Homo sapiens: one gene and its partners. The protein of the gene in region 1 purifies or fractionates together with the protein of each later gene. This does not show direct contact. Each region holds a gene or a part of one and is shown in the gene's direction. Other genes may lie near its edges. The genes, in order: SNX3, AKR1A1 and PPIL3.

Region 1 (10,630 bases):
CCTCTCAGGTTGCCCACAGCAATACCAGTACACAGACAACTTATTTTTTTTAGAATTAGGCCATTAAGGAAAACATAAAATTGATGATAGTTTTCTGACATTTTACCTCATCCTTAGAATATGTTCATGTCTTCTCCTCCTACCTCCACTTTAATTGCCACCCTCTTAAGCTACCAGCACTAACACCCTGGCGTATATCCTTCTATACTTCCTTCTCCCCATGCACATATAAACATATACAAATATAAATGTACATATAGTCACTGATAGGGTGGGTTTTTTTGTTTGTTTTGAGACAGAGTCTCACTCTGTCACTCAGGCTGGAGTGCAGTGGCGTGATCTCGGCTCACTGCAACCTCTGTCTCCTGGGTTCAGCAATTCTCTTGCCTCAGCATCCCTAGCAGCTGGGATTACAGGCATGCGCCACGATGCCCAGCTAATTTTTTTGTATTTTTAGTGGAGACTGGGTTTCACCATGTTGGCCAGGCTGGTCCCGAACTCCTGACCTCAAATGATCCACCTGCCTCAGCCTCCTAAAGTGCTGGGATTACAGGCATGAGCCACTGTGGCTAGCCTACTGATACGGTTTTATTTGTTTACCCAAATGGACTATAGCAGACAGATTATTTTGTGATCCTCACTTACCAATATCATGGTCTCTGGTAGTCTAGTGGCTAGGATTCTGTGCTTTCACCAATACATCATGGATAGTCCTCCTCTAATTCTAATAACTAAATAATAGAGTATTCTAATAAATGAAAATATAACTAGTTCATTTACTCTAATCATTATACAATTTCCCACACTTTAAACATACTATAATTCAAGCATTTTCTTTTTTTTTTTTTTTCTTTTTTTCTTTCTTGAGACAAGGTCCTTGTCTGTTACCTAGGCTGGAGTAGAGTGGCATGATCATAGTTCACTGCAGCCTCAACCTCTTGGGCTCAAGCAATCCTCTCACCTCAGCTTCCCAAGTAGTTGGGACTATAGGCACACACCAGCATGCCCTGCAATTTTTAAATTTTTTGTAGAGATGGGGTCTCCCTATGTTGGTCTTGACAACTGATCTGCCTGACCTGGCCTCCGAAAGTGCTGGGATTACAGGTATGAGCCATTGCCCAGCCTAATTCAAGCTTTTTAAAAAATTGATAAGCCTTGGAGCTGTTTCCAGTTTTTGCCACTACAAACAAAGATGCAATAAACATCCTTGCCCTTACAACCTTATGTACCATGGTCTCTTGCAGCAAAAGTTAAGATTTGCAGGTGAAACTACTCTAATAGTCTTACTTTTGATAAATATTATCAAATTACTTTTCCAAAAAGATGTAAAAATTCATACTCATGTCATTGAAATATGAATGCCTGTTTTCCTACTTTCCTACTGTGTGTTTCTGTTCATTTGGATTTTTGCCATTTTGATAGACAGAAAAAAGTATTTCATGTTTAATGTGCATTTATATGATTAGTGAGTTTGAGTATAGTGGCAGTTGAAGTGGAGGTAGGAGGAGAAGACATGAACATATTCTAAGGATAAGCTAAAATGTTAGAAAACTATCATCAATTTTATGTTTTCCTAAAGTGGCCTAATTCTAGAAAAATACATTGTCTGTATACTGGTATTGCTGTGGGTGCCCTGAGAGGTGTGTCATTTGAGTAGAGTATTAATTATCACAATTTGAAGGCTCTGGCCATTAAGATTATCAATTCGTCTTTATTCTGAGCGCACTAAACAGTCAGCTGATAGTAATTTCATTTCTTTTTTATGCTTATTGTCCATCTGAATTTTCTGCCTAAGAGGCAGCGTAAAATATTGGTAAGTATATAAACTCTGGAGCTAGTTTTGCCTTTTTTTTTTTTTTTTTTGAGACAGAATCTCGCTCTTGTCACCCAGGCTGGAGTGCAGTGGCGCAATCTCGGCTCAGCTGCAACCTCTGCCTCCCAGGTTCAAGCCATTCTCCTGCCTCAGCCTCCCGAGTAGCTGGGATTACAGGCGCCCGGCACCACGCCCAGCTATTTTTTTGTATTTTTAGTAGAGACGGGGTTTCACCATGTTGGCCAGGATTGTCTCAAACTTCTGACCTCAGATGATCCGCCCATCTCGGCCTCCCAAAGTGTTGGGATTACAGGCGTGCACCCGCGCCCAGCCTAGTTTTGCCATTTCTGAATGATAAAACCTTTGGGCCAGGTGCGGTGGCTCACCCCTGTAATCCCAGCACTTTGGGGGGGCCTAGGTGGGCGGATCACAAGGTCAGGAATTCGAGACCAGCCCGGCCAACATGGTGAAACCCCGTCTCTACTAAAAACACAAAAATTAGCCGGGCGTGGTGGCAGGCGCCAGTAGTCCCAGCTACTTGGGAGGCTGAGGCAGGAGAATAGCTTGAACCCTGGAGGCAGAGGTTGCAGTGAGCCGAGATTGTGCCACTGCACTCCAGCCTGGGTGACAGAGTGAGACTCTGTCTCAAAAAAAAAAAAAAAAAAAAACTTGACTCAGTGCCACCCACTCATCCAAGGTGGGAGTGGGTGAGTAAAACTAACCACATTGAGATTCTAATTGTATTAAGTTATTAATTTTAGATAGTGACTTTTTCTGATATTAAGTCCTCCCATCCAGGAACATAGACTCTTTTCTCTTTAGGTTTTGTCTTACATCTTTGAATACAATTTCATAGTTTTAGTCCTATGTTCCCTTTGCTCCTTATAGTTCCTATCCCTTCCTTCCTAGATATTTTGTACTTCTGGTCACTTGCAAACAGGGTATTTTCTTCCATTTCCATTCTAACTAGATATTGCATAGACAAAGGAAAGCTATTACATTCTTTATTTCTGTCTTGCCACTACATTCTCTTGTTAATTCTAGTAGCTTATTATTTCTGGATTTGTATTCTAGAAATGCAATCACAATTCCTGAAAAATAAGGATAATTTTTTTTCCTGATATTTACACCAAGAAGGTCTTCTTTGGCTATACAACTGTGCTATGATGCTGTGCTGCTGTCCCTCCTAGCCGCTTCCCCACTGCAGGCATTTGTTCTGGCTGCCCACTGCTGCCCTGAGTGGTCGCCAAGGAATCAGACAGAAGCATTCTATGAGAATATTCCATGATTGCTTTGTTCAGGTGTCACCGATGACAACATAATACAGTAGTTCCTGGTCTCTTAGCTTGCATAGACTTCAATTCAGAGTCATTGATATGTATTTATTGAGCTTACATTTCTAATCATACCAGTCAAATTCCCATTTGGTCTGTTGCATTAGGAGACATGCCCAGCATTAATATCTAATGAGCTTGTCTGTCACTATCTGTCACATTATTCAGTTTTATTTGCCTCATAGCACCAATTATATTGGCAGGTGTATTATTTACTGAATTGTCTCCCTAAGACAGACTATATACTAGGCTATAAACCTGACTTATCTACCCTTTCATTTCTAGTACTTAGAATGAAAACATCTAGTAGGTCTTCAACAAATATTTGTTGAATTAATAAATGAATGTTGTTTTCTGGAAAATAATATACATTGTATTTAAGTAATGCCTTTTTTTTTTTTTTTTTTTTTGAGATGGAGTTTTGCTCTTGTTGCCCAGGCTGGAGTGCAATGGCACGATCTCGGCTCACCACAATCTCCGCCTCCCAGGTTCAAGCAATTCTCCTGCCTCAGCCTCCCGAGTAGCTGGGATTACAGGCATGCGCCATCACGCTCGGCTAATTTTGTATTTTTAGTACAGACGGGGTTTCTCCATGTTGGTCAGGCTGGTCTCAAACTCCCAACCTGAGGTGATCCGCCCGCCTCGGCCTCCCAGAGTACTGGGATTACAGGCGCAAGCCACCGCACCCGGCCAAGTAATTTCTTTTTATTCCAGTGTTTCTTAGTGTTATTAAGAATGGTTGCTGTTGGCCGGGCACGGTGGCTCACTTCTGTACTCCCAGCACTTTGGGAGGCTGAGGCGAGCGGATCAGCTGAGGTTAGGAGTTCGAGACCAGCCCGGCCAATAAGGCAAAACCCCGTTTCTACTGAAAATACACAAAAATTAGCTGGGTGTCATGGCGCACGCCTGTAATCCCAGCTACTCGGGAGGCTGAGGCAGGAGAATCGCTTGAATCCGAAAGGTGGAGATTGCAGTAAGACAAGATGCGCCACTGCACTCCAGCCTGAACGACACAGCGAGACTCCGTCTCAAAAAAAAAAAAAAAAAAAAAAAAAAAAAAAAAGCAAGAAAGAAAAGAAATTTGCAGTTCAAGGGACAGATCAGTCCAAGCACGGTGGTTCATACCTGTCATCTCAGCACATATGGGAGGCCACGGCGGGAGGATCACTTTGATGCTGGGAGTTGGAGACCAGCCTGGGAATCACAGTGAGATCCCGTCTCCACAAATAATTACTAATAATTTAAAATCTAAAGAAAAGGGGGGCGGGGAAGATCAGGTTATTTAAAGTAATTATAGTGTTAAACTTGACATATTAAAAAATGCAGAAATAGTTGTGAGGGATAACTCTCTGGGCAGAGATAGAAATGTATCGTATCTCAACATTTAAAATCTGCATTTCCCATTGGACCATAAGAGATGAACTAGGACCTAATTAATTGGGTTTTCTCCCCGTTTCTTTCTTTCTTTTTTTTGAGACAAAGTCTCACTCTATTACCCAGGCTGGAGTGCAATGGCAGATCTCAGCTCACTGCAACCTCTGCCTCCCGGGTTCAAGCGATTCTCCTGCCTCAGCCTCCAGAGTAGCTGGGATTACAGGCGCGCACCACCACGCCCAGCTAATTTTGCATTTTTAAGTAGAGATGGGGTTTCACCATGTGGGCAAGGCTAGTATCGAACTCCTGACCTCGTGATCCGCCCGCCTCGGCCTCCCAAAGTGCTGGGATTACAGGCATAAGCCACCGTGCCCGGCCTTCCTCCCCGTTTCTTAAAAAGGCTCATGTGAGTTGCATTTCCAGTCCTGTAGAGGTACGTTTAATACTTTTCAAAAAAAAAAAAAACTTATCAGGACTTCGTGAGAAACGAAAGTGGACACCCAAAGCAGCTTGCAGCCGGTCTACTGTTACTTTGTTTTAGCGGACCGACCTGTCTCCAAAATCGATTTGACCATAATGCTAGGATTTAACTAGGGCTTTAGTTTTTATTTCACTCCCCCACTTTACTGGTTTCAACCTATCAATCCAGACGCGTGTCTGGTGCAACGCTCGGGTTTATGGCAAAATCATCTCAGGCATTTGCTTAACCTTCTCCAGAAAGGCATTTTCAGGGGTTCACAGTGAGACGGTGCACAGGTTGGCACAGAGTTAGTAGGGGCAGTTTTGTTTCGATTTGCGGGCAAATCTCTAAGATCTCTCCGTTTAACTTTCGCCCGCAATTCCCAAAGCCGCTAAAGCCGTTTCCGGCGCTCTACCCCGCCGCAGGCCGAGGCTGGCGCAGAGAGACAGGAAGCGCCAGCTCTGGGCGTCTGGGTCCTCGCCTCCTCGGCCGCAGCCCCGCGGCGGCGCGCTCGCGGTGCATTGTGGGCGCTGTAGTCCGGCCGGAACCTGTTTGCGACCCCGAGTCCCATGACACCGCTTCTCCTCACACCCCAGTCCGCAGTGCCCCTCCCCAGCCTCGGCCGGGCCTCCCGGGAGCCGGGCGTGGCGTTCCAGCTAGTGAGCCGTTTCTCCCCTGGGCTCGGAGGCGGAAGCTTGAGGGGCGCGGGGAGGAGCTTCGCGTGCGGGGTGAACGCCCGCTCTACGTGCTCGTTCTCTTCGCGACCGCTGCGCGCGAGCCCCGTGTCCCCACGGCGGGCAGCAGCGGCGGCGGCGGCGGCTGAACGCGGAGGGGGCGGAGGGAGCCCGCGGCGGCGGCAGCAGCTACAGCGAAATGGCGGAGACCGTGGCTGACACCCGGCGGCTGATCACCAAGCCGCAGAACCTGAATGACGCCTACGGACCCCCCAGCAACTTCCTCGAGATCGATGTGAGCAACCCGCAAACGGTGGGGGTCGGCCGGGGCCGCTTCACCACTTACGAAATCAGGGTCAAGGTGAGGCCGTCTCTCCCCTCTCCCAAGAAACCCCTCCCGCTGGCTCTGGTCACCCCCACTCGACCCGGGAGTGGACCCCCGCGGGCAGCCACAGCCTCCCAGGCCGGGAGCCCCCTTGCAGAGGCGGGCCGGGGTCGTGAGCCAGGGCCCCTCTTCCTGTAGGGCTGGTGTGGGGGGCTGCAGAGCGAGCCCGGCGCGCTGGCACTTGGAGAAGGTGCTCGAAGAGGAGGGCGTGGGTTGAGCGCCGCTTGCCCCTCCAGCAGCTGATCAGGGAATGACATTTGAGTTGGAAAGGGGTAGATCTTTCGAGAACACATCCCTTCGCTGGGAAGGGAAAGAGATGTTGACAGAGAAAAGGGGCTTGCGCAAAGTTAAAGCCTTTTCCCAGTTTTCTCTTCCTGGAGACTTCCCAGAGGTAGCAAGCCAACCCGGCTGCTCCAGGCCCTTCCCGAGCTGCTAAAGTAACCTGGGTTGTGCAGTCTTCTGAACGGGACTTAATGAAAGTTCACAGAAGCCTGACAATTTTTGATAGGGCTGAGCCAGACCAGAAGGGTGATTGGACATGGTTGACTTCAGCATTTTGGGCCACCGCCCTGCCAAAGGCTGAGGTGTGGTGTCACCTACCTCATAATCCAGAACTACAGTTGCTTTAAGAAAAGACTAGGGATCTTGCTCTCTTAATTCGAGATTTGCACTTAATTGAATAAAGAAATCAACAGAAATAAAATATACCTAATTTCATAACTAGTATTTGTTGGCAATAATTTAGATGATTTGAAAGATGTTAATTGAAAATAGTGCTTCACTTTCACTCTATAATTCAGGATTAAAGAATTTGCCCATGTATGGAAGCATCTTTAAAAATTAATTACATTAATTTAAAGATGACAGCAAATTATTAAAAGTTAAGTGTAAAGCGATTTTTCCTTTAATCAAAATTTATATGACAAGCTACTATTAACATTTAAGTGAAAAAATTCTCATTAACTTACACACTTTGTGTCGTGAAAAACACAAAAATCAAATTTACCATCCTAACCATTTTTAAGTGTACATACAGCTCAGTAGTATATTCACATTGTTGTGAAACTTAAGTATTTTTAAAAAATGATTCTTACGTAGTTAGCATTGATTTTAAAAAGTTAATCAAACTTTAAGATATGAAACGAATAGTTTAATGTTTCAAGCCACTGTTGTCTTCTTATGGATGTGTAAAATGTGGATCATAGGCCGGGCGCGGTGGCTCATGCCTGTAATCCCAGCACTTTGGGAGGCCGAGCTGGGCGGATCACCGAGGTCAGGAGTTCGACACCAGCCTGACCAGCATGGAGAAACCCCATCTCTACTAGAAATACAAAATTAGCCGGGTGTGGTGGCGCATGCCTGTAATCCCAGCTACTCGGGAGGCTGAGGCCGGAGAATCTCTTGAACTGGGGAGGCAGAGGTTGCCGTGAGCCTAGATCGGGCCATTGCACTCCAGCCTGGGCAACAAGAGCAAAATCCCTTCTCTAAATAAATAAATAAAAATTGAATCATAGGATATGTTGTCATAGGGAAACTGCAAAATCCAGACTTCAGTACACCTGGGGAACTACATTCATACATAAACCTAGTGGAAAAGTGAATGTTTTTCTAATTGTCTGTAATACATGACAGATGGTTCACTAAAAAGAACTTCCTCTTTTGCCCTATTCACTAGTATTTTCTTTTTTTTTCTTTCTTGTGCTAAAACAGAACTTGGTATTCTTGTTTCTATACTTCCATAGCAGGTACTTCCTGTCACAAAACTGAATTGGAATCTCCTGCCTACACTTCCTCCACTTACTTTGAGTTTATCTTGCTGAATGCATTATATTAAATGGGTTCTAGTATAATAATTTAATCCTCTTTTTTTTTTAATACACCTAATACCTTAGCAAATAGCTGATGTGACACTTAAAAATGGTTTCTGGGCCTGGCGCAGTGGCTCATGCCTCTAGTCCCAGCACTTTGGGAGGCTGAGGCAGGTGGATCCCTTGAGCTCAGAAGTTTGAGACCAGCCTGGGCAACACGTTGAAACCCCTTCCCCACAAAAAAAGAAATTAGTTGGGCGTGGTGGCGCGCATCCCTGAGGTCCCAGCTACTCCAGAGGCTGAGGTGGGAGGATCACTTGAGCCCAGGAGGTCGAGGCTGCAGAGAGCTATGATGAGGCCACTCTACTCAAGCCGGCATAACAGAATGAGACCCTATCTCAGGAGAGAGAGAAAAAAGGGTTTTGGTATAGTCATTTACATGTTAAAGAAAATTTTTTTTTTTTTTTTTTGAGACGGAGTCTCGCTCTGTTGCCCAGGCTGCAGTGCAGCGGCGCTATTTTGGCTCACAGCAACCTCCGCCTCCCAGGTTCAAGTGATTCTCCTGCCTCAGCCTCCTGAGTAGCTGGGATTACAGGCATGCGCCACCACGCCTGGCTAATTTTTGTATTTTTAGTAGAGATGGGATTTCACTGTGTTGGTCAGGCTGGTCTTGAACTCCTGACCTCGTGATCCACCTGCCTTGGCCTCCCAAAGTGCTGGGATTACAGGCATGAGCCACCGCGCCTGGCCTGAAAATAATCTTTTTTAAGAACGATTAATGAGTCAGGGAACTAACAAATTATACACTTACTTTGGTTTGTATTTTTGTATAAACCAACTCACTGGGTGTTAATAGCTGTTAACAGTCATAAATGCCAGTGCCTATGTGAAAACCTAATTGAGTTTTTAATGCATGAAATGACTTTGGATTTCTTTCTTTTTTTATTTTTATTTTTATTCTTTTTGAGACAGAGCCTTGCTCTGTCGCCAGGCTGGAGTGCAGTGGCGCGATCTTGGCTCACTGCAACCTCTGCCTTCCGAGTTCAAGCGATTCTCCTGCCTCAGCCGCCCAAGTAGCTGGGACTACAGGCACGCGCCACCACGCCCAGCTAATTTTTGTATTTTTAGTGGAGACGGGGTTTCACCATGTTGACCAGGATGGTCTCAGTCCCTTGACCTCATGATCTGCCTACCTTGGCCTCCCAAAGTGCTGAGATTACAGGCGTGAGCCACCATGCCCAGCCTGGATTTCTTTTAGTATGTAATGTGTTAACTTAAAACTAAGGACACCATATAGTAAGGAAATTAGGCCTTATTTGAGCAGCATATGATTTTTTAGAGTAATTATAGTCTTGCATTAAGGCAGAGTGGCTATGACATGAATAGTTTAATATTTTGTAATTTTTTTCTTCTTGAGATAAGAGTCTCGTTCTGTAGCCCAGGCTGGAACACAGTGGCATGATTGTGGCTCACTGCATTCTCAAACTCGAGGACTCAAGTATTCCCCCCGCCTCAGCCTCCCAAGTAGCTGGACTACAGGGTACTACTATACCTGGCTAATTTTTTATTTTTTGTCAGATGAGACTTGCTATGTTGCCCATGATGGTCTTGAACTCCTGGCCTCAAGTGGCCCTCCCCCTCTCAGTCTCCCAAAGTGTTGGAATTACAGGCATGAGCCACCTCACCCAGCCCTGCAATTTTATTTATTATTTTCTAAATGTTGCTGCTCTCCCGAACCCCTACTGACTACCTTTTGCTGTTGAATTTGCTATGTGGAAAACCATTTTATGTTCCAGAATTTGGGCTTTTAAACTATCTTACAGTTACTGTCTCATTCTGGTCTTGAGAAAAATTTACAGTTTTACAGGATCTGATTGAAATTACTCTAATTCACAGGGCAATTTTATATGGATGGTGGCACTTAGAATGCAAGTTTCCCAATCTCCATTTATCTTTTGGTTTGAGGATAGTGTTTAAGACTATTAGGATCACTTGATTAGTATCTCTGGGCTTTTGAAAATAATTACACAGTGTTATGTTTTTAAAAATTGTTCTAATGGGTAGGTACAGCAGAGAGCACCATAAATGATTAAAGGTTTAGGAAAGTTCAAGGTCTGGAATTATTTAGGCATATTCAAGAGAAGGCTGAAAGCAAAATTCAGTCACTGTTTATGAAGTTTGTGCTGTAATATAACTTTAATATTCTGGAGATTTTTAAGTTAATCAAGATCTATTTTACCTGGAGACCACTGTTTTGAACAGGAATGGAATTAGAATCTTTCTTGAGCTCTGACATAGTCCTCAGTTCAAAGAATAGATTTAACATTTCCTAGCTGGGTAAGATACAAAATCAAAGCTCCACTTCCCCTCTGTGAAATAGGTGTGCTAATAATAGTACCTACCTCTTAGGACTAAATGGGATAAGGCACATGAATCTTTCTAGCACAGTGCCTGGCACATAATAAGCACGCAAAATTTAGCTCTTTCTAAAGATAGACATTTTCTAAATTAAACGTCAGTGATCAACTACATTTTCTGTGTGTTAATGTTTAGTTGAGTTACTAAAATTGTTAGATTTTCTTGTCAAGAAACCTACTTGTCATGGAAGTATACCTTCATTAAGCAAGCATGGTATAAAAATAAGCTATCTTATTTGGTACTTAACCAAGTAACCTTTGTGTATGTATTTATTTTTTCGAGACAGGGTCTCCCTCTGTCTCTCAGCCTAGAGTGCAGTGGTGCAGTCACAGCTCACTGAAGCCTTGACCTCCCAGGCTCAAGT
Region 2 (11,000 bases), on another chromosome or scaffold:
AGAGTAAGACTCTGTCTCAAAAAATAAATAACATATATTTAAGAAATTAAGAATTTTGCTTTGGTGCATAATCAGGAAAAAAGCAATAAATGGTTCTGAGGACCAAGTCACTCTGGTGGGATTGGGGATTGGAGCTCAGATCCCAAAAGATGAGGTAGCTGACTGCATAATGCAGTCCCCAGGGCCTGGTGCCAGCCTTGCTGGCTCTCAGCAGCCACTTGAATGGGACCACAGGATTTGAGGGGCCTGAGAGGGAGAATAATGCCTCAGTGCACAGGCCCAGGGCCATTTCCAGTAGCTACCTGTGTAGGGACTTTCACTACTTGGGGGAAATGAGTCAGGTCTTGTGAAGTTGGTTTCAGAGCTGGCCAGAGTTTAGGAATGATTCGGCCCTAATAGGGGATTAGAAGGAACTTAAATATGTTCCTTAAATGTGCGCTCATTACAATGTCACTAGAAGGTCCACGCATAAAGTCAAGATCTTGTTCAGGCCCCCTTATCGCCCTGCTTCGTATATGGGTCCTCTGGGAACCTGAACTCTGTTCTTCATTCTCATTCAGACAGCCTAGCCTACAGTAAGCAGGAAGTGCCAGCAAATAAGTCACTGGGGTAGCTCCGGGACAAACTCAGAGACTTGGACAGCAGGCATTTATTTCTTCATCTCTTCTACCTGGCCACATTCCTCTTAGGGTCTAGAAACCCCTGCCAAATGCTAAAACGTTCAGTGAGGGGTGCTGAGAACTTAACCTTTCCCTCCCTCCTGCCTAGTTGTCCAGAAAGGGATGCTCCCTTCTCCTTCCTAGACAGCCATTCTCACTTTCTAGCTCTTCATCTGTTTCAGCCTCCTCTGTCGCCACACAAGGCCAACCCTGCACACACACATAGGTATGCATTCTGCCTGTTCTACATTAGCCCCTCTGGACTGTGAACCTTGAAGGCAGAGAACAAGGCTGGTCCTTTTTTTTTTTTTAAATTTTTGTGATGAAATCTCACTCTGTCACTCAGACTGGAGTGCAGTGAACAATCTTGGCTCATTGCAACCTGCACCTCCTGGGTTCAAGCACTTCTCCTGAGTAGCTGGGATTACAGGTGCCTGCCATCACACCCGGCTAATTTTTGTATTTTTTGTTTGTTTGTTTTGATTTTTGTTTTTCCGTCGGATTTATTTCCTCACATTACAGCATACTTTTCATATGAGCCTACACATATCAGATGGTAACTCTGGAATGGGTGAGTCTGTGACACTGACCCAGCACAGCTGTGAGGGTGATGACAGGCAGGTTAGCAGGTGCGCACAGAGGGGCTTTCTTCTAAATTGGAGGTCAGGTTAGATGATTCAGCTCCGCAGAGCTCATTCAGTGCTCCGTCTTCTGGTGGCTTCCCTTGATTTCTAATAAAAGCTGCAGATGGAGTCACTCAGTTCCACATGGCTGGGGAAGCCTCAGCAAACTTACAATCAAGGTGGAAGGCACCTCTTCACAGGGTGGCAGGAAAGAGAATGAGTGCCTAATTTTTCTATTTTTAGTAGAGATGGGGTTCCACCATGTTGGCCAGTCTCGTCTCAAACTCCTAACCTCAAGTGATCTTCCCACCTTGGCTCCCAAAGTGCTGGGATTGCAGGTGTGAGCCACCGTGCCCGGCCAAGGCTGGTCCATTTTTGTGCCCAGTGAAAGGACTAGGACATAGTATATGCTAAGTAAATGTTAGCTAAATGTATGATCCATGATCCCCCCCACAATTATCCCATTATTTTTTTTCTTTTTCTTTTTCTTTTTTTTTTGAGACAAGAGTCTCGCTCTGTCACCCAGGCTGGAGTGCAGTGGCATGATCTTGACCCACTGCAACCTTCACCATCCAAGTTCAAGGGATTCTCATGCCTCAGCCTCCAAAGTAGCTGAGATTACAGGCGTGCACCACCATGCCCAGTTAATTTTTTGTATTTTTACTAGAGATGGGGTTTCACCATGTTGGCCAGGCAGATCTTAAACTCCTAATCTCAAGTGATCCACCCGTCTTGGCCTCCCAAAGTGCTGGGATTACAAGCTTGAGCCACCGCGCCCAGCTTCCCTCCATCATTTTCTCCACTTTCATATCTCCTGTCTCTTCCACTGGACCCTTCCCCGCTGCTTAGCACGTGGTCATGCTCGCATTTCCCACATAGTGAAAAACTCTCCCTCCATCTGCATCAAGTCACTATTAACCCATAACTTTTCTTCCTCTTACTTTTTTTTTTTTTTTTGAGACAGGGTCTCACTCAGTTGCCTAGGCTTTGTAGTGGTGGGTGCGATCACAGCTCACTGCAGCCTTGGCCTCCCAGGCTCAGGTGATCCTCCCACCTCAGCTTCCCAAGTAGCTGAGAACACAGGTGCATGCTACCATACCCAGCTAATTTTTGTATTTTTTGTAGAGATGGGATTTCACCATGTTGCCCAGGCTGATCTTGAGAACCCCTGGGTTCAAGTGATCTGCCTGCCTTGGCCTCCCAAAGTGCTGGGATTACAGGCATGAGCCACTGTCCCTGGCCTTTACTGTATCCTTGAGAAGTCCTTCCTCTGATTCTCCATGTCTTCATCTCCTGTTCATTCCTGAATTCAGGTCATCTGGCTCAGGATTAACCATTCCACTGAAGGAGCTCTCCACATTGGTCACCAATGATCTTCATGTCCACCAAATCCAAAAGTTTCTGCTGTGGATATCAGACAACATGAATATAAAGACTATGGTAAGTAGTGGATGCTCAATAAAGTGGTTGTTCTTATATTCTTATTTGCTCACTTCTGTTTTTTTGTTTTTTAAAAATTATTATTTATTTTTGAGATGGAGTCTTGCTCTGTCGCCCAGACTGGAGTGCAGTGGCACCATCTCGGCTCACTGCAACCTCTGCCTCCCAGGTTCAAGCAATTCTCCTGCCTCAGCCTCTCAAGTAGCTGGGATTACAGGCACCTGCCACCATGCCCAGCTAATTTTTGTATTTTTAGTATTGATGGGATTTCACCATGTTGGCCAGGCTGGCCTCGAACTCCTGACCTCAGGTGATTGGCCCGCCTCGGTCTCCCAAAGTCCTGGGATTACGGGTGTGAGCCACCACACCTGGCCTGTTTGTTTTTAGACAGGGTCCTTGGTAAAAAGAATTTGAGGGGAAAAAAAAAAAGAGACAAGGTTTTGCTCTGTTGTCTAGGCTGGAGTAGAATGGCACAATCATGACACACTACAGCCTCGAAGACCTGGGCTCCAGCAATCCTCCCACTTCAGTCTCCTAAACACCTGGGACTATAGGTGTGCACCACCGTGCCCAGCTAATTTTTATATTTTTTGTAGAGATGAGGTTTCACTATATTGCCCAGGCTGGTCTTGAACTACTAGGCTCAAGTGATCCTCCCTTCTTAGTCTTCCACAGTGCCGGGATTACAGCCATGAGCTACTGTGCCTGGCCTGTAGGTTCTTCTTTTACGTATTTTTTTTTTTTTGAGACGGAGACTTGCTCTGTCACCCAGGCTGGAGTGTAGTGGTGCGGCTCACTGCAACCTCTGCCTCCTGGGTTCAGGCGATTCTCCTCCCTCAACCTCCTGAGTAGCTGGGACTGCAGGCGCGTGCCACCATGCCCAGCTAATTTTTGTATTTTTAGTAAAGACGGGGTTTCACCATATTGGCCAGGCTGGTCTCGAACTCTTGACCTCGTGATCTGCCCGCCTTGTGCTGGGATTACAGGCGTGAGCTACTGCGCCCGGCCCCTTTTTTTTTGAGACAGAGTTTTGCTCTTGCTGCCCAGGCTAGAGTGCAATGGCACAATCTTGCCAAACGCAACCTCTGCCTCCTGGGTTCAAGTGATTCTTCTGCCTCAGCCTCCTGAGTAGCTGGGATTACAGGGATGTGCCACCTCACCTGGCTAATTTTGTATTTTTAGTAGAGATGGGGGTTCTCCATGTTGGTCAGGCTGGTCTCGAACTCCTCACCTCAGGTGATCTGCCTACCTCGGCCTCCCAAAGTGCTGGGATTACAGGCGTGAGCCACCATGCCTGGCCTATTTTATTTTTTTTTGAATACAGGCTGGAGTGCAGTGGCGCGATCTCAGCTCACTGCAACCTCCGCCTCCCTGGTTCAAGTGATTCTGTTGCCTCAGGCTCCCAAGTAGCTGGGATTACAGGCTCGCATCAATACATCCAGCTAATTTTTTTTTTTTTTTTTTTTTTTTTTTTTTTTTGAGGGGCAGTCTCGCTTTGTCAAGAGGCTAGAGTGCAGTGGCTCGATCTCGGCTCACTGAAACCTCCGCCTCCCGGGTTCAAGCGATTCTCCTGCCTCAGCGTCCTGAGTATCTGGGACTACAGGTGCGCGCCACGACGCCTAGCTGAATTTTTTTTTTTTTTTTTTTTGAGATGGAGTTTCACTCTTGTTGCCCAGGCTGGAGCGCAATGGCGCAATCTCAGCTCACCACAACCTCCGCCTCCCAGGTTCAAGCAATTCTCCTGCCTCAGCCTCCCGAGTAGCTGGGATTACAGGCATGTGCCACCACGCCCGGCTAATTTTGTATTTTTAATAGAGACGGGGATTCTCCATGTTGGTCAGGCTGGTCTCTAACTCCTGACCTCAGGTGATCCGCCTGCCTCGGCCTCCCAGAGTGCTGGAATTACAGGCGTGAGCCACCGCACCCGGCCAAGTCTGATTGTTTTTATGAGGATGGCCTGATACATTAGACATTTGGTCCACCAGGACATCACTTATGTTGGGGAGACAGTGGGGGATAACGGGGGTGGGGAAATGGGAAGAGTTGCTCTCAGGGAGTAAAGGTGTGGGGAAAAGCAGAGCCAAACCGAGATAACCCTGTGTCTTGCCCATCCCTGCCAAGGAAAACACATACATGCAAGACACCTCTCCACTCAAACAGCACAGACTATTTCAAATCGCAGATGTGTCATTTAATTAATACCTGTGTGACTTTGGGAAAATTATAAATAGCCTTAACCTTGCTGAGTCTGTCCAATCTGTAAAATGGATTATGAATACTTTCCTCACAGGCTTATGGTGTGCTGGTAATATCTTCCTCTGGATGGCAGTTACATTGCAAAAAATAATTTAAAAAAAAGAACTGTATACATTTAAGATTTATACATTTTCTTTCTTCCTGGATGTAGAATAGGAAAAAAAGAAAAAGAAAAAAAAAAAGACTGGTGTATTTTCTGTATATATGCTATACTACGATTTTTAAAAAGGCTTGTACGAAATAAAAGAATATTCCTTTTCGGCCAGGCGCAGTGGCTCACTCCTGTAATCCCAGCACTTTGGGAGTCCAGGGCGGGTGGATCACGAGGTCAGGAGTTCAAGACCAGCCTGGCCAAGATGGCGAAACCCCGTCTCTACTAAAAAATACAAAAAAATTAGCCAGGCGTGGTATCGGGCGCCTGTAATCCCAGCTACTCGGGAGGCTGAGGCAGAGAATTGCTTGAACCAGGGAGGCGGAGGTTGCAGTGAGCCAAGATCGCGCCACTGCACTCCAGCCTGGGCGAGAGCGAGATTCCGTCTCAAAAAAAAAAAAAAAAAAGGAATATTCCTTTTCCAGGATTATTATGAAGATTCAATAAAACCATGTTTATTAAGTGTTAAGCACAGTGCCTGGCACATAACGTGCTGGGCGGGGTCTATGGTCCAGACAGGGGGACCAGGCACTTTCCAGCGCCTGGATCTGCAGACGCGAGGTCTTCTGTATTCTGGCCAATCTTGGTGTTGCAGCTGCTCTCTGGGCCTCAGTTTGCTTGAACTAAATGTAACGGGGCCAACTTAGGTGAACTTTGGGAATCCAGCCAACCTGACTTTAGGGAGAGTATGGAGCCACGGATGGCATTGTGAATCCGGAGGGCCGACACCAGAAGAACCTGCAACGTGGCATCTGCTACCTTACTTCCCCCGGAAAAGCGCCTGCGGCGGCGCCTAGGCGCGCGGTGCAATGTGGGCCAGCAAAAGGCGAGGCTGGCCCCGCCCCTTGCACCGCCCACGTGGCCAGCGCCACCTGCCTCATTGTGCCCAGGAGTTCTCCAAACCCGCGCTGCGGAGTGAGTGACCAAGTTCCGGCCAGTTCGACCTCGAGGATCCAGAGGTGGAGACGGTACTACCTCCCAGCTCTGTTTTCCATCCCCTTCAGGTCCTTCCTCGGGAGGCGGCGAAGGCGGTCCACCCTGCGCGTGATCCTTTATGCCCGGCCCCTGCCCCTCCCTCCGGGTGGAACTTCCCCCTCACCGCCAGACTTAAGCTGAGGATCGTTGGATCTCTGGCGGGGTGCAGAACTGAGCCCAGGCCACAGTACCCTATTCACGCTCTGTGCTTGTGCCAAGGTGAGTTTCTCTTGCTGCTGGCCTATCTTTCTCCCGGAGGAGATGGCCTCGATTCTTTACTACTGAAATGTAAGCCCCTGGGGTTGAGTGGAGAGCGCAGAGCACTGGAGGGGACGAGACTTGGTTTCGGATTTGAGCTCTTCTTTTTCTCTGTATGATCTCTTGCTAACTTCCCAGTTTCTCTGAACCTGTTTCCTCAGCAATAAAATGAGGTCCTACATTAGAACTGTAGCAAGAATTGAGATAAAGCTTTGAAGGCGCACAGCGCATACTAGGTGATCTGCAAGTTTTAATTGCCATCTTTTTGTTTGCTCACCTATGTGCTTTTTCCAGCTGCTCCGGCTTTCTTATGCAGGTGCAGGGATAGTTCTCAGAAGTGGGGAGAAGTGGGGATAATTCTCTTACTTAGACACCTGCTTTGGGTCTGAGAAAGTCTGACATGTTATTCTGTTGCCCCAGAACTCTGTTAAAGTAAGACACAGATCTGAACCTTCACTGGATGAGGCTACTGTTAATTAACTCTTCCCCTTCAGATCGTTCATACTCAGGGCTGCAGGCCTGTTACTTTTCCAAGATCTGTTTCCTTATCTTTAATACAGGAGCAATCTCAGTATGATTCTATCTGGTCCACTGGGATTTTTTGCCGAGTATAGTAAAGTGCTTTGATATTCTCCAAGAGGATTCTTTTCAGGTTTTCCAACAGGTAAAGGAAGAAGGTGACAGAGGCAGCGACTTCCTCAAATGTCCTTCCAGCTGGCCAAACTCAACCTGTCAAGATCTCTCCCCCATAAGCTGTGTGTGTGTGGTGTGTGTATTGTGTACATTGTATGTATGTATGTATGTATGTATGTATGTATGTATGTATGGGACAGGTACTCTAGGAGTGAGGGGTTCAGGCAGATGACAGGCTCAGACCTCAAGGAGTAGCCAGGTTTGTGGGGGAAATTTATATATAAACAGAAAAATGTAGTGATGTGCACATGCTATCAGTACATGGAAGTAGCCATCCATTTATTTATTTATTTATTTTCTTTTTAGAGATGGATGGGGGTCTCTCGGTCTTTTGCCCATGCTGGAGTGTAGTGGTGGAATCCTTGCTCAGTGCAGCCTCAAACTTCTGGGCTCAAATAATCCTGCCACCTCAGCCTTTGGACTATAAACTACATGCCACTGTGCCCAGTTAATCTTTAAAATAAAAAAAAAAAAATTCCCCCTAGCAAGCAGACTCAGAAAGAAAAAAACAAATTTTTGTAGAGACAGTGTTTCCTTTTGTTGCCCAGGTTTCAAGTGATCCTCCCGCCTCAGCCTGCCCAGGTGCTGAGATTACATGTATGAGCCACTGCACCTGGAAAGGAGCCAGAAATGTGAAGTGCTAGCTGAAGGATGAGCAGCAGCTAGCCAGGCAAAGGTAGGGTTTGGGGAAGGAAAGTGCACACACCTAGAGTCAGGTAAGTGATGTGACCCTGTTGAGTGTTCAAAGTCTGGAATACAGTCTGACATGAGGAGGTGGTGAAATGAGAAAGATAGAAGCCAGGTTTTGAGAAGCCTGGACTTTATCCTGAATATAGGGGAGAATTGCTGGAAGGGTTTGAGACTGGGAGTCACATGGTTGGATCTGGTGATGGACTGCGGGAAGAGGGACCACTCTGGAAGCCAAGATCTGTGGTTTAAGTAAAGAGTGATGGTCAGCTGGGCACAGTGGCTCATGCCTGTAATCCCAGCACTTTGGGAGGCCAAGGTGGGTGGATCACCTGAGGTCAGGAGTTCGAGACCAGCCTGGCCAACATGGTGAAACCCTCTCCGTACTAAAAATACAAAAAGTAGCTGGGTGTGGTGGCACACACCTATAATCCCAGCTACTGGGGAGGCTGAGGCAGGAGAATCACTTGAACCCGGGAAGCAGAGATTGCAGTGAGCCGAGATCATGCCACTGCATTCCAGCCTGGGCAACAGAGTGAGACTCTGTCTCAAAAAAAAATTTAAAAAGGCTGGGCACAGTGGCTTATGCCTATAATACCAGCACTTCGGGAGGCTGAGGCGGGCAGATCACGAGGTCAAGAGATGGAGACCATCCTGGCCAACATGGTGAAACCCCGTCTCTACTAAAAATACAAAAATTAGCTGGGTGTGGTGGCATGCGCCTGTAGTCCCAACTACTGGGGAGGCTGAGGCAGGAGAATCGGTTGAACCTGGAAGGCGAAGGTTGTAGTGAGCCGAGATCACACCACTGTACTCCAGCCTGGCGACAGAGCGAGACTCTGTCTCAAAAAAAAAAGAGTGGTGGTGGTCAGAGATGGGGCAGTGGCAGTGGAGGTAGATATGGATGGACTAGAGAAAGATTTAGGAATATATATTTTAAAATTCTTTTCACATACATCAAGAAGTACAGGAAGCATTATTGCAATCTTAGGTCTTAGGTTACATATTAGAGCATTCTCTTTTTCTGTAGCTATTAAGTATTAACAAGATTTAAAACCCAGCTAAACTGACAAAATCTGGCCAACATTACATATGTAAGGTGATTTTCCAAGCTGGCTTTTCTAGAAGTATAGGAGAGGCCGGGTGTGGTGGCTCATGCCTGTAATCCCAGCACTTTGGGAGGCTGAGGTGGGCGGATCACGAGGTCAGGAGATCGAGACCATCCTGGTTAACATGGTGAAACCCTGTCTCTACTAAAAAATACAAAAAAATTAGCTGGGCATGGTAGCGGGCACCTGTAGTCCCAGCTACTCGGGAGGCTGAGGCAGGAGAATGGCATGAACCCGGGAGGCGGAGCTTGCAGTGAGCCGAGATCACGCCACTGCCCTCCAGCCTGGGTGACAGAGCGAGACTCCGTCTCAAAAAAAAAAAGAAGTATAGGAGAAAGCCAGGTGTGGTGGCTCACACCTGTAATCCCAGCACTTTAGGAGGCCAAGGTGGGAGGGTCACTTGAGGCTAGAAGTTTGAGGGGGCAACACAGTGAGACCCTATCTCTACAAAAGAAAAATAAGGCCAGGCATAGTGGCTCACACTTATAATCCCAGCACTTTGGGAGGCTGAGGCAGAAGGACCACTTGAGCCCAGGAGTTTCAGACCAGCCTGGGCAACAAGGAGAAACCCTGTCTCTACGAAAAACACAAAAAATGAGCTGGACATCGTGGCCCATGCTTCTAGTCCCAGCTACCTGGGAGGCTGAATGGAAAGGATAGCTTGAGCTTGGGAGGTGGAGTTTGCAGTGAGCTGAGATCACACCACTGCCCTCCAGCCTGGACGTTAGAGCGAGACTCTGTCTCAATAAATAAGTAAATAAATAAGCTGGGTGTGGTGACATGTGCCTGTAGTCCCAGCTACTCGGGATTGCTCCAGTCCAGGAGTTCGAAGCTGCAATGAGCCATGAATGGGCCACTGCACTCCAGCCTGGGCAACAGAGTGAGACCCTGTCTCAAAAAGAAAAGTACAGGAGAAAATACTCTCCTCACCAACTACTTATCAAAACCATAATCTGATAATACTCATAAATGCCTGCAAGGAACTACAAATACTTTCTTTAGATGGCTTTTATTTATTTATTTTTTAGACAGGGTTTCAGTCTGTGGCCCAAGCTGGAGTGCAGTGGTGTGATTTCAGCTCATTGCAACCTCTGCCCCCCAGGCTCAAGGGATCCTCCTGCCTCAGCCCCCTGAGTAGCTAGGACCATAGAGACACATCACTATGCCTGGCTAATTTTCATATTTTTTGTAGAGATTAAGTTTTGCCATGTCCCCCAGGCTGGTCTCGAACTCCTGGACTCAAGCAATCTGCTTGCCTCAGCCTCCCAAAGTGCTGGGATTAACAGGCATGAGCCACCACACGCAACCAGATGTTTTTTTTTAAGGCCCAAATGGATTATACTATCAACATGTTGTCTGGTTTGCTTTAACACTTGTTATCCAGGGCTTTGGTCTTTTGGTGAGATAGAGTACAAAGTCAACACTCTATCCACAAGTTGTGCATCTGCGGATTCAACCTAGAATCAAAAATACTTGGGAACAAAAACCAACTTTAAAAATTCAAATAAAAAAATACAGTATAGGCCGGGCGTGGTAGCTCACGCCTGTAATCCCAGCATTTTGGGAGGCCAAGGTGGGTGGATCACCTGAGGTCGGGAGTTCGAGACCAGCCTGACCAACATGGAGAAACCCTGTCTCTACTAAAAATACAAAATTAGCCAGGCGTGGTGGCGCATGCCTGTAATCCCAGCTACTCGGGAGTCTGAGGCAGGAGAATCACTTGAACCCAGGAGGCGGAGGTTGCGGTGAGCCGACATTGCGCCGTTGCATTCCAGCCTGGGCAACAAGAGTGAAACTGTGTCTAAAAAAAAAAAAAATTATAACACCTATTTACCTAGCATTTAGCATTTATATTGTATTAGGAATTATAAGTATTTAGAGTTGATTAAAATATACAGGAAGATGTACTTAGGTTTATGCAAATACTATGCCATTTTATATAAGGGACTGGAGCATCCCAGGATTTTGGTATCTGAAGGGGTCCTGGAACCAATCTCCTGTGGATACCACGGGATGACTATACAGAAAGAAGAGCATGGGTTAGGCCCTGTGCAAGGTGCTTTAGATATAGTATCTCTTGAAAATATCAGAACTGAGATTCAAACCCAGGTCTGCGTAGCCCCACAGCCTAAACTGTTTCCTCTGTACT
Region 3 (10,360 bases), on another chromosome or scaffold:
AAAAAAATACAAATATTAGCCTGTTATAGTGGCGTGTGCCTGTAGTCCCAGCTACTCAAGAGGCTGAAGTGGGAGGATTGCTTGAGCCCAGGAGATCAAGGCTGCAGTGAGCCAAGATCATGCACAGAACGAGACCCCACTCAAAAAAAAAAAAAAGTCTACTCAATCAAAATATGCAGTTTAAGTGTATTATTATATTTCCATTACATTAAAATGTACCCACAAAAATTCTGAAAAAAATTCATTGCAGTGTTTATCTCTGGATGATGAGACTAGGAGTAATTTCTTTTCTTTTTGCTTTTTTTAAAACCTTTTTTTAGAGACAGGGTCTTGTTCTGTCCCCTGGGCTGGAGTGCAGTGATGCATTCTTGGCTCACTGCAGACTAAATTTTCTGGGCTCAGGTGATCCTCCCACCTCAGCCTCCAGAGTAGCTGGGACTACAGGTGCATGTCACCATGCCTGGCTAATGTTTGTATTTTTTGTACAGATGGTGTCTCACTATGTTGCCCAAGCTGGTTCATTTTACTTTTCTATTGTAAGGAAATGTATTAGTTTTGTTACAGGAGTTGAGGCTGGGAGGTGATAAACTTTTTGAAAAGTCAACTTTTTCCTGAATGAATAACTAAACAATTTTTTAGGTATTAATTATTACATTAATGACTGCTTCCATATACCAGCTGAAAACCAGAGACTGGCTATGACAGAATCACCTGTGGAACTTTGTTGTTTGTTTTTGAGACTGGGTCTCACTCTGTTGCCTAAGCTGAGTGCAGTGGCCTGATCACGGTTCACTGCAGCCTTGACCTGAGCTCAAGCAGTTTCTCCTGCCTCAGCCTCTCAAGTGGCTGGACCACAGGAGTGCACCACCGTGCCCAGCTAATTTCTGATTTTTTGTAGAGACGAGGTCTTGCTCTGTTGCCCAGTCTGGTCTGAAACTCCTGGACTAAGATGATCCTCCTGTCTTGGCCTCCCAAAGTGTTGGGATTATAGGAGTGAGCCACTGCACTTGGCTGGAAGTTTTAAAACTATAACAGATCATGGCCTTGCCCTCCTAAAAATAAAGTCAGTAGGGCTGGTTAGGACTTAGACTATATTTTAAGGTTCCTAGATGATTCTTTTGCAGGCAGAGTTAAGAACCATTATATAGGCCGGGCGCGGTGGCTCACACCTGTAATCCCAGCACTTTGGGAGGCCGAGGCGGGCGGATCACGAGGGCAGGAGATCAAGACCATGCTGGCTAACACAGTGAAACCCCGTCTCTGCCAAAAAATACAAAAAATTAGCCAGGTGTGGTGGTGGGTGCCTGTAGTCCCAGCTACTTGGGAGGCTGAGGCAGGAGAATGGCCTGAACCCGGGAGGCAGTGCTTGCAGTGAGCCGAGATCGTGCTGCTGCACTCCAGTCTGGGCGACAGAGCGAGACTCCGTCTAAAAAAAAAAAAGAACCATTATATTATACACCTTATACACCAAGATTGTGGATATGTATTGACTCTTCATATATTCTGGCCCAGGAATTCCATTCCCAAATGTTTACTCAAGAGAAACTTGTAAGTTTGCACCAAGAGACATGTACAGGAGTGTTCTGATGTACTGTTTGTAATAGCAAAAGTCTAGAAACAACCCAAATGTCCACTGATTGTAGATGAATCACTATGTAGATTGTGGATAAATTGTAGTATATTCAGTAGTGAAATATCACATAGTAGTAAAAAAATAGTAATAAACTATGGCTATATGTACATGTATAACCTTAGAAATGTAACAATGTTATTTGTAGAAAGCATTTCCCAGAAGACTAAAATGTTACGATGTAATTATATTCAGAAGGAAAAGGAAAGAATGTGTTGTTTAGGCATGTGTAAATGTGTTAGGGCTGGGCACAGTGGCTCACTCTTATAATCCCAGCACTTTAGGGGGCCGAGGTGAGAGGAACAAGTACTTGAGGCCAGGAGTTTGAGATCAGCCTGAGCAACATATTGAGCCCTCATCTCTACTAAAAGTTAAAAAATTAGCCAGGTATGGAGGTGTACATCTGTAGTCTCAGCTACTCAGGAGGCCAAGGTGGAAGGATTGCTCAAGCCTAGGAGGTCAAGGCTACAGTGAGCTATGATTGCACCACTGCACTCTAACCTGGGTGACAGAGTGAGACCCTGTCTCTAAAAAAAAAAAAAAATGAAAAAATGAAAAAAAAAAGGTATTAGAATAGTGGTTACCTCTTGTAGAGGCTGAGGTAATAAATGGAGAGGAGCACATGGATATATGTAATTAATTGGTAACTTTTATTTTTTCTTGAGCTCCCATTATTCAATGAATTGGTAAATTTTAACTCTGAAAGCTGGGAAATATGTTAATGGGTGCTTATTTTATTAACTTACATTTTTATTAACTATATTTTTGTGTATGTATTAAATATTGTGTATGTATTAAATATTACATGTGTATTTAATATTACATTTGATTGGTGGACACCTTTTAGGGAGACAAGCATTAATATTTTGATATAGGTGCTTCTCTATGACTTATTAGCGTCACCCAATGAATAGCTAAAGCTAGAGTAATTGGTGGAGTTGTAGTGTATTACAGGCACCTCCCTGTAACATAGTTCACAGTTACATCTTCATTCTTATCAGTAAGGTCCTTTTAATTTCTATACACTGTCTCTTGTAAACAAATACTATCATGATAGTAGAGCTAGGTGAGACCTTTCTTAGATCGTTCAGTCCTGGGGTTATAAACTGACTGCCCATGAGTGGAACACCCACAGATGCATTATCTGTGGCCCTTAGTTAAAAAATATATATTTAATGTCATTAATCAAGAGATAGCCTATTCATTTTGCCAGACTTCATCTCTCTCTAATGTTTACATTCTGCCCAATTGTCAGTTTATCTGCTTGACCCTTGTGAGCATCTGAGTTATAAATAGACCCTTGAACTAGTCCAGCCTCCCTTGTTTTACAGATAAAGAAACTAGCAAGAGTCCATTGTATGTGAGAAGAGATTGTGGGCATTTTGGTTTTGTTGCCTGCCTGATCATTTCATTCCAGCACACTATTCCTTAATATAAATGTAAGGATTATTTCTATTATTTGTTGGTATTGCAAAAAGTGTCCATGGCTGTATTTCTTCAAAGTGAAAATGAAATTAATTGAGAAATATTATTTGATATATTAACCTTTTACATACAAGTTTTCAAAGGTACAGAAAAGGCAGAAACTGAACATTTGGATTATCCCTAATAGAGAGAAGTTGGTTAAATGTTTTCTTGCTCCCTTAAATATTGTGAAGGTAAAGATTGAATGTCTTGGCTGGGTGTGCTGATTCACACCTGTAATCCCAACACTTTGGAAGCTAAGGCAGGAGGATCACTTGAGCCTAGGAGTTAGAGACCAGCCTGAGCAACATAGTGAGACCCCAATCTCAAAATATTTTTAAAAAAGAAAACAAAGGTGTGCCTGTCTTGTTTCAATACTATATTTGGGATGGTTATATAAAAACACAGTTAATACTTTGATGTGTCTTTTTCAGCACAATGTTAGAGGTGTTGTATCTATGGCTAATAATGGCCCGAACACCAATGGATCTCAGTTCTTCATCACCTATGGCAAACAGCCACATTTGGACATGAAATACACCGTATTTGGAAAGTGAGTATTCTGGTTATGGTTTTCTTTTAGCATTTCAATGCAAGTGGTGCATATGCTTAGCTGTGACAGTAGCATAACTAATATTGAAAAGAGTGAGGCCGAGCGCAGTGCCTCACACCTGTAATCCCAGCACTTTGGGAGGCCAAGGTGGGCAGATTGTCTGAGGTCAGGAGTTCGAGACCAGCCTGGCCAATGTGGCAGAACCCCTGTCTCTACTAAAAATATTTTAAAAAATTAGTTGGATGTGGTGGCACACACCTGTAGTCCCAGCTACTCAGGAGGCTGAAGCAGGAGAATTGCTTGAACCTGGGAGGCGGAAGTTACAGTGAGCCGTGATCATGCCATTGCACTCCAGCCTGGGCGACAGAGTGAGACTCTGCCTCAAAAAAAAAAAAAAAAAATGAAAAGAAAAGAAAGAAAAGAAGAGTGGTGTGAGAGCTAAACGTACCTGGAGTTTAAGTCTACCACTTAGCAACCCTGTGACCTTGGGAAAGTTATAATCTCCCTGAGCTTTATTTTCCTTATTTTGTAAAAGAGGCCAGTAATTTTTCAATATTGTTATGCAAATTAACATAGTATATCTATTTTCTTTTTCTTTTTCTTTTTTTGAGACGAAAGGCTCTGTCGCCAGGCTGGAGTATGGTGCAGTAGCACAGTCATGGCTCATTGCAGCCTCAACCTCCTGGTCTCAAGTGATCTTCTCACCTCAGCCTCTTGAGTAACTGGAACCACAAATGTGTACCATCATGCGCAGCTACTTTAAAAAAAAAAAAAACAAAAAAAACACTTTTTTTTTAGAGACATGGTCTCACTATGTTGCCCAGGCTGGTCCATTTTCATTAATGATAGCATTTCACAGCAACTAACAGATCTGAAAAATAGTGGCTTAAACAAGATGGACTGGCATGGTGGTTCCATTTTGTTACCAGTGTTCTAGGCGCCTCTGTCATAATATTGGCAGCACAGCTCTTATCAAAACTTCTGTGTATCAGGGAGGAAAGGGGAGGAAAGACAAAAGGTGCTTGCCAGCTGATTCACCTTTTTTAATTAACAGAACTTTCCCAGGCCTGTAATCCCAGTGCTTTGGGAGGCTGAGACAGGAGGATCACTTGAGGCCAGGAGTTCAAGACCAGCCTGTGGAACATAGCAGAACCCATCTCTATAAAAAAAATTTAAAAATTAGCCAAGTGTGGTGACACACACCTGTAATCCCAACTACTCAGGAGGCTGAGGTGGGAGAATCACTTGAGCCCAGGAGTTCCAGGCTGCATGAGCTGAGATCACACTTCTGTACTCCAGCCTGGGCAACAATGATACCCTATCTCTAAAAAAAAAAAGATAGAAAAAAAGAAAAGCCGGGTGCGGTGGCTCACACCTGTAATCCCAGCACTTTGGGAGGCCAAGGAGGGCAGATCATGAGGTCAGGAGATCAAGACCATCCAGGCCAACATGGTGAAACCCCATCTCTACTAAAAATACAAAAATTAGCTGGGTGCGGTGGTGCGTGCCTGTAATTCCAGCTACTCAGGAAGCTGAGGCAGGAGAATGGCTTGAACCCTGGAGGTGGAGATTGCAGTGAGCCAAGATTGCGCCACTGCACTCCAGCCTGGTGACAAAGCGAGACTCCGTCTCAAAAAAAAAAAACTTTCCCAGAAGACCCAGAACTTAGTAATGTGACCACTCCTTACCTACAATGGAGGGTAGAAAATGTATTTCAGCCACATTGCCACCCTTACTAAAATTAGATTTCTCCGAGTAAGAAGAATGGCTCCTAGGAAGGTATTTCACAGTTTCTGCCAGGGTATCTATTAAGAGTACTATGTCTGGGAGTTGCTTTTATAAATCAGTGGGAAGTCAATTTGTCTGTTCGTTCAACAAATAATTATCATGCTTAATAAACCAAGGCACAATTCTAGAGTTTGTTCTATTTAATAGTTTGGATGCCAAATTAGGTTAATTAAAAATAGAGGACTCCCAGTCTAGGTAACATAGTGAAACCCCGTCTCTACAAAAAAATTTAAAAATTATCCAGGTGTGGTGGCTCACACCTATGGTCCCAGCTACTTGGGAGGCTGAAGTGAGAGGATTGCTGGGCTCAGGGTGTCAAGGCTGCAGTGAGATCTAGACAGATCTTTTCTTTTTCATTCCATATACATGTATCTAATTTACACATTAATAATAATCAAGGAGAAAAGAAATATTACAACATCTAGTAGTTTTTTTATGTTTGTAAATAACCCAGTTTCCCTCTTATTTTCTCCCTTAACCAACATCATTCAAAATTATTGTTCAGTTATTACCAGGACTCATTTTACTGGATTTGCGACAAAACTGTAGAGTTTAGAACAAAGATTAACCTTAGGTTCATTAATTCCTTGTTTGTTGTATACAGATGCACACACATTTTTCTGGGAAGATGATCCAGTAACTTTCCTCTAGTTCTCCAAGGGGTCCGTTTCCCATATACTTGACTCTACTTAACTGCCTCAGTTCTACCTGCTGGGTTTTTTTAACTTTTTACCTGAGACCTATGTTTTCTACCTCCTCTGTTTCTCTTACTGACCTAGAAGGTGGGATAGCCTTTAAGACTTATAATTTAAAGACTTAAATGTCTATATTTAGGGGTAAAATCAAAATGTTTTGGTTGAAGTACCCATTTTGTGAAAATGCAAAATAAAATGCAAATCTGCTAATTTTTTTTTTTTTTTTTTTTTGAGACAGAGTCTCACTCTGTCGCCCAGGCTGGAATGCAGTGGCGCCATCTCAGCTCACTGCAAGCTCACCCTCCTGGGTTCACGCCATTCTCCTGCCTCAGCCTCCCAAGTAGCTGGGACTACAGGCGCCCGCCACCGCGCCCGGCTAATTTTTTGTATTTTTAGTAGAGACGGGGTTTCACCATGTTAGCCAGGATGGTCTCAATCTCCCGACCTCGTGATCCGCCCGCCTTGGCCTCCCAAAGTGCTGAGATTACAGGCGTGAGCCACTGCGCCAGGCCTACAAATCTGTTAATTTTTTAAAGTACATACCAGTGGTTGAGAATCCCTAATCTGAAAATTAAAAATTAGGAACTTTTTGAGCACTGACATGATGCCACAAGTAGAAAATTCCACATCTGACCTCATGTGACGGGTTGCAGTCAAAATGCAGTCAGATGACCAGGTGCAGTGACTCACGCTTGTAATCCTAGCACTTTGGGAGGCCAAGGCGGGCAGATCACGAGGTCAAGAGATCAAAAGCCACTCTTTCTTAGCAAATGTTTTAGACTGAAATTTCCAAAACTTGTATTTGAAGAATAGCTCTCAATATATTTTTTCTTGGTGGTAACATGAAGTGGGATTGCTGGAGGCTGTTAACTGTCAGTCTTCTCTTCTCCTATTTTTATTACTTCTTGTTGTTATCCAGAAGCAAAAAGTAGAAATGCCATAATTAGGCCAGACGTGGTGGCTCATGCCTATAACCCCAGCACTTTGGGAGGCTGACGTGGGCAGATCACTTGAGGTCAAGAGTTTGAGACCAGCCTGGCCAATGTGGTGAAATCCCATCTCTACTAAAAACACAAAAATTAGCTGGGCATGGGGGCATGTGCCTGTAGTCCCAGCTGCTTGGGAGGCTGATGCAGAATTGCTTGAACCTGAAGGAAGAGGCTACAATGAGTCGAGATAGTGCTACTGCACTCCAACCTGGGCAATGGAAGTGAGACTCCATCTCAAAAAAAAAAAAAAAGAAAGAAATACTATAATTAAACAATTAACTGCTGGGCTTGGTGGCTCATGCCTGAATCCCAACACTTTGGGAGGCCAAGGCGGGCGGATCACCTGAGGTCAGGCCAGACCAGCCTGGCCAACATGCTGAAACTCCGTCTCTACTAAAAATACAAAAATTAGCCAGGCGTGGTGGTAGGCTCCTATAATCCCAGCTACTTGGGAGGCTGAGGCAGGAGAATTGCTTGAACCCAGGAGGAGAGGTTGCAGTGAGCCGAGATCACACCATTGCACTCCAGTCTGGGGGACCAGAGCGAGACTTCATCTCAAAAAAAAAAAAAACAAGTACAAAGTGGAGTGGTCACCTACTTTAGGACTCTCATTGTAGGGCAGTATTGCTAATAGTGTCATCTACATACTTTCTCCATGTATTTCCTGTAGCAAAGAAATCTTTATGACTAGTGTGTTGTAATAAGACATACATATTTGGACTTCATCCGTGGTTTCCAGCATAGTTCTTTTAAAAACCTTGCAATTTCCTGAGTGACAGGAGTGAAAGGAATATTTTATTGTTCATAATAAACCCCATTCAACCATACCTGAGTTTATGCTAATGAGGTGACTCTTGGTGGGGTTCTAGATAGCTTCAGTATGGAGGGCTGGTTGCCAGAGGAATCAGCCATGTATTTTTAGAGGGGTGGAACATTCAGTGACCTCCTATTCTTGACCTCTGGGAAGGAGAGAAGGGCTGGAGATTGAGTTCCAGTCACTAGTGGCCAGTGATTTAATTAATCGTGCCTACCTAATGTGCCCTCCGTAAAAACCCTAAACAGGGTTTGAGAGCTTCCAGGTTGGTGAACACAAGTAGATACTAAGAGGGTAACACACCCCGAGAAGAGCATGGAAGCGCTGTGCCCCTCTCTCAGACTTTGCCCTATGCATCTCCTCCATTTGGTTGTTCCTGAGTTGTAACCTTTATAATAGCCCATAGTAATAAATAAAGTGCTTTCCTAAGTTCTATGAGCCATTTTTGAAAATTATTGAACAGAGCTGGGGGGCATGAAAAATCCCAAATTATATCATGGTTAGTCAGATAGTACAGATCACAATCGGGACTTGGAACTGGCATCCGAAGTGGTAGGGGCTGTCTTGTGGGATTAACCGGGGTCTCTGTTCACTCCTTGTAGTTAGTGTCACAATTAAATTATAGGGCCAGGTGTGGGGGCATGCATTTGTAGTCCCAGTGAGATCCTGTCTTTAAAAAATTAAATAAAATTTTGAAAAAATAATCAAGTTGTGGGATACCCAGAGAATTGGAGAACTGGGAAAACCCACACATTTGGTGTTGGAAGTATGAAAGTGTAGAAAAACAGTTTGTTTTCCCTTTAACTGGTTATATTAGTCCCATTTGTAGCTGTTCTCTGTCACTGTATGAATGGGGTAGAATATAATTTTAGGTACTATGGTGGAAATATTCCTACCCTTTGTATTGTTGACTAAGGGCATAAAAGTAAATTATTTCTGAATTTTGATCCATATCTATGATGGAAAATCAACATTTTGTTGTACATTCAACTAGAGAACTCAGAGATCTGTAAGACTTGATTATTTTTTAAGGAGACTGTAATTGTCATAGATATGGATATCATGTTTCAATTTAAGGAAATTTTCATATGTTATGTTGTTTCTCTTTCAGGGTAATAGATGGTCTGGAAACTCTAGATGAGTTGGAGAAGTTGCCAGTAAATGAGAAGACATACCGACCTCTTAATGATGTACACATTAAGGACATAACTATTCATGCCAACCCATTTGCTCAGTAGCTATGATAGACCTGGACAAATAACTTGACAAATTGCTGGAACACACTTATTGTGGTTTACCCGGTTTTAATTATGTCAGAGATTGCATCATCCTTCTGCTTGTTTACAACTATGATCTTCTATGAAATGGTGGTACCAAGGGGCGCCCAACAGCTTTTATCCCCATTCTTAGAGCATATTCTTTATTATAATGATTATCCAACATATTTCTTTAATTTTAATACAAAAAATACATCATTTAATTTTTGTTACATATGAACATTCATTTTTAAATGCTCAGCCTCAAGTGCAGGCATTTTTGAGTGGCCTGATTACATATTCCTCCCACAGCAAGTCCGTATCCTGGAAGTGTTATTTTATAATAAAATTTAAAAAGTTTTAAAGAATTAAATCGTAGGACAAATTAATTAAAATATTGTGTAAAATTACCTTCAGGCTATGTGTATAAGGTATATATGAAACGTAAATGAACTTCATGTTTAAATTTGGGTCTCATCTCCAAGATATCTTATTATGTATATGCAAGTATCCCCAAATCTGAAAATTTGGGTATTCCTGAAACTGATACTAACGGTAAGAGCTCTACCATTAATTATTCACTTTATACAGTTAGAAAGAGGAGGGACAGGATAAAAAGTTAGTCTGGAAAGGCCAGCCAATCCATTTGCTATTTTCTCTGATTTTTTTTTTTTTCTTTTTGAGACGGAGTCTTGCTCTTTTACCCGGGCTGGAGTGCAGCGGGTCACTGCAACCCCTGCCTCCCAGGTTCAAGTGATTCTCCTGCCTCAGCCTCCCAAGTAGCTGGGACTACAGGTGCACACCACCATGCCCAGCTACTTTTTGTATTTTTTTTTTCAGTAGAGACGGGGTTTACAGAGACCATGTTGGCCAGGATGGTCTTGATCTTTTGACCTCATGATCTGCCCACCTCGGCCTCCCAAAGTGCTGGGATTACAGGTGTGATCTTTAGGTTTACAGTAAAGGCTCTCAGAGGTCCTGGAGGCCGAGTGTGGTGGCTGACGCCTATAATCCCAGCACTTTGGGAGGCCAAGATGGGCAGATCACGAGATCAGGAGATCAAGACCATCCTGGCTAACATGGTGAAACCCTGTCTCTACTAAAAATATAAAAAATTAGCTGGGCATGGTGGCGGGTGCCTGTAGTCCCAGCTACTTGGGAGGCTGAGGCA

What was found.
Region 2: the proteins of SNX3 (region 1) and AKR1A1 fractionate together in Homo sapiens (co-fractionation; 2 studies listed by BioGRID). This does not show direct contact.
Region 3: the proteins of SNX3 (region 1) and PPIL3 purify together in Homo sapiens (affinity purification with mass spectrometry; 2 studies listed by BioGRID and IntAct, with this or other methods). This does not show direct contact.

What each region holds. Positions count from the first base shown.
Region 1 is NC_000006.12:108,256,146-108,266,775, reverse strand, and holds the start of SNX3 (sorting nexin-3), read left to right. Parts: upstream 1-5,735; 5' UTR 5,736-5,854; coding exon 5,855-6,016; intron 6,017-10,630. UniProt on the Homo sapiens protein: Phosphoinositide-binding protein required for multivesicular body formation. Specifically binds phosphatidylinositol 3-phosphate (PtdIns(P3)).
Region 2 is NC_000001.11:45,544,833-45,555,832, forward strand, and holds the start of AKR1A1 (aldo-keto reductase family 1 member A1), read left to right. Parts: upstream 1-5,993; 5' UTR 5,994-6,323; intron 6,324-7,603; exon of another isoform or gene 7,604-7,731; intron 7,732-11,000. UniProt on the Homo sapiens protein: Catalyzes the NADPH-dependent reduction of a wide variety of carbonyl-containing compounds to their corresponding alcohols.
Region 3 is NC_000002.12:200,870,206-200,880,565, reverse strand, and holds the end of PPIL3 (peptidyl-prolyl cis-trans isomerase-like 3), read left to right. Parts: intron 1-3,528; coding exon 3,529-3,647; intron 3,648-9,044; coding exon 9,045-9,171; 3' UTR 9,172-9,659; downstream 9,660-10,360. UniProt on the Homo sapiens protein: PPIases accelerate the folding of proteins. It catalyzes the cis-trans isomerization of proline imidic peptide bonds in oligopeptides. May be involved in pre-mRNA splicing.